Regions from separate parts of the Homo sapiens genome. Here all the other regions are linked to region 1. The links come from fine-mapping of genetic effects on gene expression. A gene starts in region 1. Each other region holds a variant in brackets. All regions are shown on one strand. Distances are from middle to middle.

Evidence for each region. PIP is the estimated chance that this variant, and not a neighbour inherited with it, causes the effect. A credible set is the group of variants that fine-mapping cannot tell apart.
Region 2: its variant is the best candidate, but not a certain one, in a credible set for the expression of NDUFAF5 in visceral fat (GTEx, PIP 0.54).
Region 3: its variant is the best candidate, but not a certain one, in a credible set for the expression of NDUFAF5 in cerebellar hemisphere (GTEx, PIP 0.55).

The regions. Positions count from the first base shown.
Region 1 is chr20:13,782,730-13,786,863 of GRCh38, forward strand. It overlaps NDUFAF5 (NADH:ubiquinone oxidoreductase complex assembly factor 5), which reads left to right and starts at 2,299. Exons shown (of 11, transcript NM_024120.5): 1 at 2,299-2,561. The coding sequence starts at 2,340. It overlaps ESF1 (ESF1 nucleolar pre-rRNA processing protein), which reads right to left and starts at 2,190. Exons shown (of 14, transcript NM_001276380.2): 1 at 2,151-2,190; 2 at 1-454. The coding sequence starts at 411. RefSeq lists enhancers at 2,235-2,524, 2,520-3,209.
Region 2 is chr20:13,809,505-13,813,638 of GRCh38, forward strand. The region is part of intron 8 of NDUFAF5 (NADH:ubiquinone oxidoreductase complex assembly factor 5); the gene reads left to right. Among named protein-coding and RNA genes, the nearest start is that of NDUFAF5, 27 kb to the left of the region's middle. The variant T/C (reference allele first, on the strand shown) is at 1,841.
Region 3 is chr20:13,821,178-13,825,311 of GRCh38, forward strand. NDUFAF5 (NADH:ubiquinone oxidoreductase complex assembly factor 5) reads left to right here. Exons shown (of 11, transcript NM_024120.5): 11 at 1-403. Among named protein-coding and RNA genes, the nearest start is that of NDUFAF5, 38 kb to the left of the region's middle. The variant T/C (reference allele first, on the strand shown) is at 2,278.

The sequences.
Region 1 (4,134 bases):
AATTCCTATAGAATTATCTAAATCAGTTTTATTTTCAGAACCCTTGTGATTAGCCTTCTTGGTTTCTTTCTTTTTCTCAACTAGATTTTTTGAATCGATTTCTTTTTTAGTCTGGGTTTTTTTCTTCTTTATTTTCTTTTGACTCAATGCTTTGCTATCTTCACCAGAGAGATTGGAATCAGAATCTGAAAGGTCGTAAAAACGCTTCAAATCCTCTGTAGTGCTATGGCTAATGGGGCGCCCTCTTTTATCCACGGCATAGTTCAACTTGAACTTCTTGTCATGAAACATGGCTCGAAATCTCTTGTCAATTTTGACTTTTCGATCCTTTTCTGGCATTTCCCAAAATCTCGGGTCCTTTGCAACCCGTCTAAACCGCTGGTCACTCATTATTTCTTGTTTGGATGACATTTTTAATTCTTAATCTCGACCAAATGCTTGAAGAAAACAAATACTGAAAAATAAAACAAATGTTTTAATGGTAATAATGGTTAGTACAATAATTAAATGTTTTAAAACACATTCACAATATATTCTAAGTTAATATATTCTAAGTTAAGTGTACATAAAATAGAGGTAACAAGTCTAATTTCATCTCTCCAACGTATTCTGGGTCACATGCAAAAAAGCAGAAACATACCAAAATATCCTCTTTCCATGACAGATCATTTAGAGAAATAAACTTAAGGTAGACAAAGCAGAATCCCAGGGCTTTATGGAGGGGAACAAATGTTTATTCATCCATTGCTCTCACTTAGAATTTCTATTTGTATACCAGTATGTGTTACTAATTGAAGGCAAATGTAGTTAAGATTCCCTAGGCCGAGTGCGGTGGCTCACCAGCACTTTCGGAGGCCAAGGCGGGCGGATCACTTGAGCCCAGGAGTTCAGGACCAGCCTGGGTAACATGGTGAATCCCCACAAGAAATACAAAAATGAGCCCGGCATGGTGGCGCGCGCCTGTAGTCCCAGCTACTTTGGAGGCTAAGGCAAGAGGATCACTTCCACCCGGGAGGTCTTGGCTAGAGTGAGCCTAACGGCACTACAGCACACCAGCTGGGGCAACAGAGTGAGACCCTGTCTACCAAAAAAAAGTAAGAAAGAAAGATTCCCTAGCCTCCGTTGGCCTCATTTGTTTCTTCACATTCTGGTCTCATTCTGCTTACTCCTTATCTCCGGCTACTGCCAACAAACAGCCTTTAGTTCTGTAAGACTAGCATTCTAACTAAACAGACCAAAATCAACTCAGGTTTAGCTAAGAAAGTTTCCTTTTTAAATTCGATCATCCTTCAAAAGTAATAAAAAGTTTAAAAATAAAAAGTAAATTTGAGTCTCCAGGTAAAGTCTCACACCAGTTAATAAATATCACTTCTTTCTATAATATCTGATTCTACCAGTGATGAAGGCCCAAGTGAGCTCATTCCCCCAAAACATACTAGAACATATACATATGTGTGTATAAATTAATATTGTTCCCTTGTGAAAAGTCTCCAATGGTTTAGCATCTCTGGATGGGAATTTTGCAAAGAGCCAAAAGTCGTTGATTATTAAGCAACCCCCCCCCAAAATGATTAAAAGGGCAATATTTCTTATTTAAAAATCAAGTCCTTTTAATTACACTAACTAGGAAAAAAAAGGAAGCTATCGCTGGTGCATTTACACATTTTTCGATGTATTACAGCACTTAACTCTCTGAGCAATCTTACGAGGTAGGTACCACCTCAACCAGGAGAAGTACTGCATGTATTGTAAATGTTTAGAAGGAAAGCACTCATTATATGTCAGATAATCCGAGAGAGGGGAAGGCGACCGGACCTCACTCCCGACACGCGCCCGCATCCCCGTAGCCCACCCTCCCCTTCTGCCCGCTCTCTAATTCGGAGAACACAGGGCTGGCCCCTGAACTAGGGTCTCCTTTCCACCTCCTGTACCGCAGGGGGGCAGCTAACAGACTGATTCGAGAAGCGACCCTGAAAAGGATCGATGAAGACTGAAGAATGAGACCGAAAAAGGCTCAGGAGGAAGGGGCAAAACCCCTCGCAGATCCGAAAGAGATCCTGTTAGAGACTAGTTTTTTCCCCGCGCCACACACACACACGCCCTCAAGCCCTTCATCTCGAGCTCTTCAACTCCAGTCCATCCCCACTCACCGTCCGCAGTCCTACCAAGCCTCACGTGGGGCTCACACCCACAATCCTCCGCGTGACGCTCCGCCGTAATGGCAAGCGAACTAGGCCAAACTACTTGCACGTTCCCTCGAGAAGATCTTTGGAGTAGACACAAAAGCCGCGCTGGCGCATGCGCACAAAAAGCGCCGGCAATTGGGGTCGCAGCTGGAGATGCTGCGGCCGGCAGGGCTCTGGCGCTTATGTCGGCGACCTTGGGCGGCGAGGGTCCCAGCGGAGAATCTTGGCCGTAGGGAAGTCACCTCTGGTGTCTCTCCCCGCGGTAGCACCTCGCCCAGAACCCTGAATATTTTCGACCGGGATTTGAAAAGGAAACAGAAGAACTGGGCAGCCCGGCAGCCCGAGCCGACCAAATTTGACTACCTGAAGGAGGAGGTGAGCCCGCGGGGCGGCGGGGCGGCGGGGCGGGCGACGCGGAGGCTTGTTTTCCTCTCCGCTAGTTCCGGCTAGGCCCCGAGCTCACCCCACCTAGCCGTCTGACCTTGACCAGCAGCCCTGCCTCTTTCGGCCTCTACTGTAATCACGCAAGGCCTGGCCTCGGATATTTGTAACATGCTTTCATTCATTCATGCATTCATTTCGGCAACGTCCTTGAGGCTGAAAGGACCTTATAGAGGCCTCCAGTGAAGCTCCGGAGAGGGAGAGAGTGGGAGAGAAGGTTAGGAGGACCCAAATCATCAGGGCCTTGCAGGATAGGGACTTGGGGTTTTCTTCTGTATCTGCACTGTCCAGCCAGTATGGTAACTGCCGGCCACACATGTGGCTGTTGAACACTTGAAAGGTGACTAGTCCAATTGAGATGTGTTGTAAAATACACACGAGTATAGTGACTTAGTATGAAAAAAGGATGTAAAATAGCTCATTAAGAGCTTTTATATTGATTACATGTTGCAGTGATTATTTTTGATATATTGGGTCACATGAAATATATTAAATATAAATTTAAATTTTTCAATTAAAATTTCTCTCGTTTTTACTTTTTTTCTTATGTGGCTACTAGAAAATTTGAAATTACATATGTGGCTCTCATGATTTTTGGTCAGCACTGCTCTAGGGGAATGTGAAGCTCTTGTTTTAATCAGTGGAGTGATCTGACTTATGTTTTAGGAAGATCAAATTAAGATTTCTGATTTGTCTTGGCTCGTTTGAGAAACCTTTCTCCCTGCCCAGGTGAGCCAGAGACTGAGGGTTTCTACTTTCAGGACACGCATTCTCAAGTTCAGGCCTCAGTAAATTTTTATTCAGGAGTGGAACAAAGTTGGAGTCAAGTATAATGCAACAAACAGTTATTGAACTCATAGCTTGAGCAGAGCTCTGTGCAAGTACAGGTCTGATCAGATGATTGACAGGGTGTCTTTCTCAGGAAGTCTTAGGCTGGTAATGTCTATTATAGGAAGTTTACTACCAATAAATTTTTTGTGTCTCACTTGTAAGGCATGGTGCACGTACTACACTGCTGATGTCGTGTACTTAGAAGATGTGCGCTCATAGCCCTTTCCCTCCAAAGAAAGCACCTGGACTACAACTTGATTGAGGCCTCGCCAATTTGTGAGACTAGAACAAATAAGATAAAGTATATGAGAGTTCTTTTTATAATAAACATAGGGTGTTCATATTAGGAATGACGTACAAGGTGGACTCCTGGGAAAAACATCTACGCTCCCTTCTCCCTTGCCCTTCTCTCAAAAAGCAGGTACATCTGTGTTTGGAACTTTTAAGTCCTAAGAGCAACTCTGGGGTGTTTATGAGGGAATGAGTGGAATGTGGGGAATACTAGACTCCCACGTCTTTATTGCTACCAGATGAAGCTAGGCCAGCAAAAGGTGGTGCTTACCTTATGACTCTTAAATTGGGATGGGATTGGAGCAGGGGAGGTGCACTTTCCTCAGATTTGGCTTTTTCTAACTTGCGAATGTCACTCAGAAAAGTTGTTCATTTATGAGTTCCA
Region 2 (4,134 bases), 27 kb after region 1:
TGAAAGAAGGGCATTTTGGCTGGTGTTCAGGGAGTAAGAAGGAGAGAGTTAAGTGATGACCTTGGTGGGTCAACGTGAGTCACAGATCAAATGCAGAAGTACTTTATAGGCCTTGTTAAAATTGTTTGCCCTTATCTTAAAATGCCCCTTGAGGCATCTTAGAGAGGTAACAGTATCAGACTTGGATTTTGAAAAGAGTAGATTGGCAGATAAACTAGTCACGAGATTAATTTCAGTATAGCTTGCTGAGAGATGATGGTAGTTTGTACTAAGGTGGTGGCAATGGAGATGAAGAGAAGCAGATTCATCCCAGAGATGTTTAGGAGATAAATTTTGCAGTTCCTGCTGGTGGATTGGCTGTGGGCAGATGAAGGAGAAAGACATTTGAAGCTTAATTGCTGAGTTTCTAGCTCACATAGAGAGATGGTGTCCTTCATTGATAGAAGAAACAATAGAAGAATACCAGGTGTGGGCAGGTACAGCCCTTGAGTTTACATTTGGATACATTGGGTTTGAAGTGCTTTTGAAATACCTAAGAGGTTATGTCAAGTAGGCAGTTGAGTATGTGGGTAGGTAGCTCAGAGGAAGCTACTGGCTTGGTTAAAAAGTTGGGAGTCAGTTGTGAATAGGTGGCATTCAAAGCGTTTGCCTAGGATAAGAACATGGAGTGAGCAGACAAAGTGGCTTGGTACTGAGGCTTTAGCAGGTGGGTAGTCGACGTCTGAGCCTACAAAGAGACTGAGAAGGAGTAGCCAGCAAGGTGTTCCAGAAAAACACCAGAAAAGTGTAGAATTGCCTGAACCAAAGGAAAGAAAGAATGTTTCAAAACAAAGGGAGCACTTAGCAGCGTTAAAAGCAAACTATGAACTGAAAAGGAAGTCCGCTAGATTTAGGAACAAGAAGGTTATTGGTGACCCTGGTGAGAGCTCTTTTGTTAGAGTGAGGAGAGTAGAAGAGGAGTAGGTTGAGGAGTAAGTGGAAAGTGAGGAACTGGAGATAGCAGATATGTGCTGTTCTTTCAAGAAGTCTGGTGGTGAAGAAGAGGTGAAGGATGGAAAGGTTACAGGTGTCAGAAGAGAGGAGAGGAATAGAAGTTGAGATGAGGTTGTTTTTTTTTTTCTAAGACTTGAATTTATTTAATTGCTGACTAGAAGAATCTAAGTGCTTTCCTAGAAGAGGTGACTCTAGAAGAGAGAGAAAAGATAATTGATGATGACAGGTGTCTGAGAAGGTGGGAAGGGTGCAATACAAAGGCCAGTGGAGGGGTTGACCTTGGTAAGGGGAGAGGCAAAGTTATAGCAGGAAGGGAGAAGAGGTAGCACCAAAGGATGTAGGTGTTTATGTTTGAAAACAAGAAGTTCCCATCTTGTGGGTCTATTTTTTTTGTCAAACTGGAAGTAATATATGCTAAGAATGAAAGGGTCAGAGTTTTGAGAAGTGAATGGAACCGTTTGAAATAGTCATTATAGGGAATGAGAAGGTGAACTGACCATCAACAGGAGGTGGCAGCTCAGGACCAGGCACGAAAATCGGATAGTTGAATTAGTTTGGGTTGGGGGTTTGCTAGTTAAAAGTGACAAAAAGACAAAGGTAAAAGATAATTCTAGGAGTATAATTGAGATAATAGGTTAAAGAATCTTAGCTGGAAGAAAAGGGAAGTGGGAACAAGAAAGAGTGAGCTGATAAATTGGGAGGAAAAAGAGGAGCTGAGCACAGGTGGTTCCAGTGTGGTCAGGGATGGTCACGGTTGAAGTTCCTGAACACACTGGAGGGACAGGAGGGTATGGTCAGAAAATGAGATGTTTGATGATTTTGGAAGTAAAGCAGTTACAAGTGATAA[T/C]GGTCTGGGACGTGTCTCAGGTATCAAGGCAGAGGTGGTGTGATGGAGTGGTTGATTAGAGATGAGATTTTAAAATCTTAACTTGCTGATTATTAACATGAAGTCACCCAGGATGGTGGCAGTACTGGAGTGTAGAGGAAAACTGAGCCAAGTGCCAAACCTTTCAGTGAATGAGGGGAGTGACTAGCCTGATGTCAGACAGCAAGCAGGAGTTAGGAGGAGCTAACAGCCTTCTGGTGTGGGGCCTCAGCAGGGTGAAGGTGTTTAATAGGGTAGGGAAGTAATGGCTTGGAAGAGGCTTCAAGGAGTAAGAAGGATACAGATCAAACTCTGAAAGAGGTTAGATATGCAAAATATATGCAAAAATAAACTATTACTTGAAAGGGATGCTGGAGAAGCAGTTTCCTTAAAAGAGAGCTTCAACTTGCGTCCTTTGTGGGAATTTGTGAGGTGGTTCTTTTATATATATAGACTGACATCAAAAATCATTTCGATGAATGGGGGAAGCAAGAGGGGTTAAAGGTATGTTCTGTGAATCCAGAACTACACTTACCTAGGGGAGCCTTCATCTGGATCCTGAAAAATTGTAAGATGATTTAAAGAAAGAGGATTATACAAATAAGTATCTAGTCTTTACTTACAGATTTATAGTCTTTTGTGAGCATTGTTGTTCTTGCTTGCTTAAGTTACGAGTGAGAATAATTAGGGCCAAAGAGAACAGTTACCTGTCAAGTGGCAGAATTAGCTGCCAAACTCATGCTTCTTGGCTCTGCCCTGGCACTGTCTGAACTGACCCTGTTCCTTCTTGTGTTGCCCATCTGTAACAAGGTTCATTTGACCTATCGTGCAGCCTCCTCTGAGTGTGGAGCTTCTGTCACTCTGCAAACGGAAAGATGCGTAGCTGAAATCTTACCATTGTCATCAGTTTTCATTCATTAATAGAGGGATTGGCAGCCTGTAGCATGCATGGCCAAGATAACAGAGGATCAGTAATAAGTCACACACACCCCTTCCCCAGCATACCCCAAGGACTTACCTGATGTAATCAAGGAGCCACTTTATCCAAAGGCTTGAGAGATGATGGTGGGCTGATGATATATCACTCGGGCTCTAATAATAAAAATGTTATTCAAATACAGCATTTATTTTTGTTCTGCTGTAGAATCTGTGTTCATGATTCATTTCAAGAAAGAAAAGAGAAACATACTAGAAATTAGACCTCTCTGTTGGAAAAAGTTACTTCCCACTGATTTCAACATATGAGCAGCACTTAACTCTGTGCTTAGTGCAATTCTCTGAGGTTTTTCTAATACCCTAATTTTACCGGTGAGCAAATTGAGGCATCGAGAAGTTAAGTATCTTGTCCATGGTCACACTGAATCTGTAGTTACAATTTGAATTCAGAGTCCTGTACTGCATATTTGATATGTATGTGATTCTTTAAATTCAGGTTAACATGTATATTCAGCGAAATGTATTAATCTTAAAGGTACAGCTGCTTGTATTTTAACCACCATCCTGAACAAAATATTGAACATTTTCAGTCTCCCAGAAGGTAGCCTTGTGCTCCTTCCAAATTGATAACCCCCTCTTTTCCTAAAGGTTTCTTGTTTGTTTGTTTTTCAGATGGAGTCTCACTCTGTCGCCTAGGCTAGAGTGCAGTGGCACAATCTTGGCTCACTGCAACCTCTGCCTCCTGGGTTCAAGTAATTCTCCTGCTTCAGCCTCCCTAGTAGCTGAGATTACAGGCATGTGCCACCACACCTGGCTAATTTTTGTATTTTTAGTAGAGACAGGGTTTCACCATGTTGGCCAGGCTGGTCTTGAACTCCTGACCTCAGGTGATCCACCCACCTTGGCCTCCCAAAGTGCTGGGATTACAGGTGTGAGTCTCCTAAAGGTTTTAAATAGACCGTATATTTTCAGAAACTATGGCCTAATACTTTCAGATGCTTTCGTAATGCTGCTTTTTCTTAACTGTAATGTCTGTTACAGAAATCAGATGTCTTAGTTTTTGATACATCTTATCCTTAGGAATATTAAGAGAAATTATTTACACTTATAAAATGATATTTAACAAAATAGATATAATCATTAACAGGTTGGTTTTATATACCTTCACTTAGCGTTTATTGAGCATCTACCCATGTGCCAACCACGGAGCCAGTGGTGGAAATACGTAGTTCCTGATCTCAGGGAGCTTATGTTGTACTAGGGAAGAAGAACGCAAAGATAGAGACAGACTCCTACATTCAACTGTAAAATGAAATCATTTATAATAAAGTACAAGGAGA
Region 3 (4,134 bases), 38 kb after region 1:
TTTAAGACGGGACACTTCATTCCCCTCTAAGTACAGGCTGAGTTTAGTGATTCCCTTCCAACAAATAGATGGTGTGTCACTTCTGAGACTAGGTAATAAAAGGCATTGCATCCTCCTTACTCTCTCTTGGATCCTTCACTCTAGGGAAAGCCAGCAGCCATATTGTAAGGCCACTCAACTCCATGGAGAAGACCTAGAAGTGAGGAGCAGAGGCCTCCAGCCAAAAGCCATGTGAGGGAGCCATCTTGGAAGCAATTCTCCAGGCCCAAACTTCAGATGACTGTGGTCCCAGCCAATGCATTGACCACAACCTCATGAGAGACCCTGAGCTAGAACCACCTAGCTAAGCCACTCTCAAATATCTTATCTACAGAAACTGAGATGATAAATGTTTGTGGTTTAAGCAACTGTGTTTTAGAGTAATTTGTTACACAGCAATAGATAACTGATACGCGATACACTGTCTTCAGGAGGTGTATTAGGGTGGGCAAGGTATTCTGAGTTGTTATTTTCAGCATAAAACATAGCCCCCTTATTTACAATTAGGTAAAGTTAACATAAACTGTATTACTTTTGTTCTCAGAGAACACCAGACCTGAAATGCTCTTGCCTGGAGGTTTGATTCCATGATATCTTGAAATGGAACTAACTTCCCACATTAAGTTTAGTAGGCCTCAAATTTTCTTTCCTGGGAATATTAGGATAAATTTTTTGGAAGCCTCGATGGGCTAATTTCCAAATGAAATCAGAGAATTTGGGAAGACCATGAGAATTCAGTGAGCTACATAACTGCACACAGATTCTTCAGCCAGTTCCCTTCTGCCGTAGCTGTTGAGTTGCGACAGCTCATTAGGATGGACTGTTGACACTGCATACTTGTTACCAGGCTCACAAATGAGTACAAGGATGTGGAAATAACAAGGACTCTTTAAAGCCAGACTTGATCGTACATTGTTAGTCACTGCTAAAACCAGGCAAAAGTAAATTGCCTGCACTTTGAAAGTGGCCATTGTAACCCGGCCAGTGTCTAGACTCTTCATTCAGGAATCACACGTTTGGCCAGGATGCCCGTTGCTAGTTCTGTCAGAACAGGTCTGGTGGTAGAATATCAGGAACACTTACCAGGTGTACTGTTTTTGTGCTCAGAGTGTTTGTGCTCAGATTGTGAGTGGGAGATTGGGAAGAGGAGAATTCCAAAGAAAGACTTGCCAGTCTGCCATAAAAAACTATGGAAGTCAAAGAAAGGTCGGGGACTGGGAGTCAGGTGGTCTGGGTTTAGTGCTGGTCCTGTTTGTTCCTAATGCTGGGGCAGACTCCATCTCTCTGACCTCAATATCTTCATCTGTAAAATTACAGGTTTGCTAATTGGTGAGTCTCAAAGGAGGCTACCAGCCTGCCTTTCACGTTCCTGAAGGGCTTTTTCAAACACTTCCACCTTTCTCTCCTTGGTTGAGAGTCACAGCCAGAGGGAGCTCATGTTAGAGGTGGGAAATGGTTGCGAGCCATTGGACAGGATGATCTCAGAGGAGCTTTTCAGCCTGACCCCAGAACCTGGGTCCCAAGGCAAAGTGGACAGGAAGCCCTCCCATCTTTACAGTTTCTCAGACTCTGTTGACCTTGGGGACTTCTTTTCCCTTCAAAGTAGACTTTGACTTCCCCTGAGGATAAGATTTAAGAAGGAAGCACAGCATGATTTACTTTGGGTCCCTTAATCTTTAAAAAGTGAGTCAGCATGCTGGGGTTTTTTGGGTTTTTTTGTTTTTGTTTTTACTCCTGGGCTTAAGCTCCCAAGGAGCTGGGCTTACAGGCATGTGCCACGATGCCCAGCTCAATAATGCATTTTGTTGTTGTTGTTTGAGACAGTCTTGTTCTCTCGCCCAGGCTGGAGTGCGGTGGTGCCACTTCGGCTCACTGCAACCGCCGCCTCCCGGGTTCAAGTGATTCTCCTGCCTCATCCTCCCAAGTAGCTGGGATTATAGGCCTGCATCACCATGCCTGGCTAATTTTTGTATTTTTAGTAGAGACAGGGTTTCACCACATTGGCCAGGCTGGTTTCAAATTCCTGACCTCAGGTGATCTGCCTGCCTTGGCCTCCCAAAGTGCTGGGATTACAGGCGTGAGCCACCGTGCCTCGCCAAAGAATGCATTTTCATTTTTAAGTTTCTGGGTCACAAAGGAGGGCCCCAGACCCTTATATGTCCAGCATGGATAGCCTTCTATATTTTCCATGGAAGATGACATTTTCTCATAGGCACCAAGCATTCAGCATTTGGGAAG[T/C]GTCCCTTAGTTTTGCACAAAGTTCCCAGTTACTTGTCTAGGTGACAAGTCCTGGCTGCAGAACAGGAAATGCTCAGGCTTCAGGTGGCAGCACTCTGGAGGGCCAAGTGAAGAAATAGATACGAAAGTACTGGTTGTCCATGTAATTTCCTGAGGAGCCAGCTGAACACTCATGGTTCTCCACAAAGGAGGCTTCTTTGAACCTGTACACAGTTGTTACGGATTGGTAAAGCCCTCTTGAAGGCGCCCTTACTGTGCTCTCACCAGGCAGTGTGCTAAGCCTTAGATATCCATTCTCAATTCACATTTCATCCTCAGTTCCCTATGAGATATTAGTACTATTGTCCCCATTTGTTAGATGAGGAAACAGGCTTAGGTTGTGACTTCTCCAAGGTCACATAAGTGACAGAGACAATTTTGACTTCAGTCTTGTATGTGAAGGGAACAGTACAATTAATGATTGTAGTGTGCTGCCTTCTTTGCAAGTCAAAACCTTCTGTGAGCTCCCAGCCTTTCTTCACATCCTCCCTTCCACCATACCCTTGAACACTCCAGCCGCATATTAGAACCAGTCAGGTGATTGCACCCACTGTCTCCAACACTTGCTCAGCCCCGTCCTTGAATCCTTGTCCCTGCAGAACTGCCTGCACTCCAAACTCTTCTGGGTCCCTTCTACTGGGAGCTGTCACCCTTCATATCCAGCTCTTTTTTTGTCCCAGGCCATCTTGAACTTTGGTTAGTTCCATCTCCTTTAGCACTTTGTACATCATTTCCTGTTCATGAATTCTGCCTCTTCAGCTAACTGTTTAGCTTCCTTGAGCATTGGCACTGCAATAACCAGGGTTCCAACAGCCCCAGGGAAAGCCCAGATAGAGTCACTATGACCCCTGTGAGCACGGCACAGCAGGAGACCGGAAGAACAGGCAGCTAGCATCAGGCACGTTCAGCTGCAAATTCTAAGGATCAGCCACTCAATTGGGATTCAAAGCTAGACTCCTATCTCAGAGGAATCTGGGTCCCAAGGAAAAAGAGACATGCATGTGAATGATGGGGCAGAAATACAATTGCTGGGACTGAGAGACAGGGAAGGGCCTGACTTTAGAGAGTAAGCCTAGAACCATGATGTGAGGTCAAAGCAGGGCCTGCAGCGCAGCTGACGGCATTATGTCATGGGGCAGGGTAGATTCCCATCCAGACAAGATGTTCACCTATTATTAGATATAGGGTGGCCCAGTGGAGTAGTGGCTAAGATTAGCATGAGTTCTGAAGTCACACCCTCCCATTGGATCCCCTTTCTACCACTAACTAGCGTACCTGTGTTTAGTTACTCAACTGCTGTGAAATGAGAACCATTCTTCAAAGTATCAATATAACACTTAGCAGGTAAAGCATCACACTTCTTAGGCTTAGGAAGCCAAGCTCATTAGATGCCTTAAGTGTCTGGTACAATAACTCTTACATTTATAGGTGTTGCAAAAGAAGGTAGAGGTGGAGCACAGGAGATGGAGAGGAGAATTTCCAGAGGTAAATGTGGTTAGCAAAGCTGAGGTAAGCATGTGGATATCTTTCCTGTAAGGTTTCGCAGAACCTTTGATGTAATTCTGAATCTCCCAAAGCAGGCTAAATTTTAGGACATCTTCCAGACTTAATGGTCCAGTAACCCTTTTATCAAGGAGGATCAAGTAAGACCTTGAACTCGTTTGGGGAAACATTAGCCTAGCACAATGCTAGGCATTGTACAGGCTTGTTAAATAATTTGAATAATTCTCGAAAAATCTACATTCAGTTATCAGAATCTGTTCACCTGCAAAATTGTTTATGAACTTTCTCAAGGCAGTCAATGCAATGGTTAAGTAC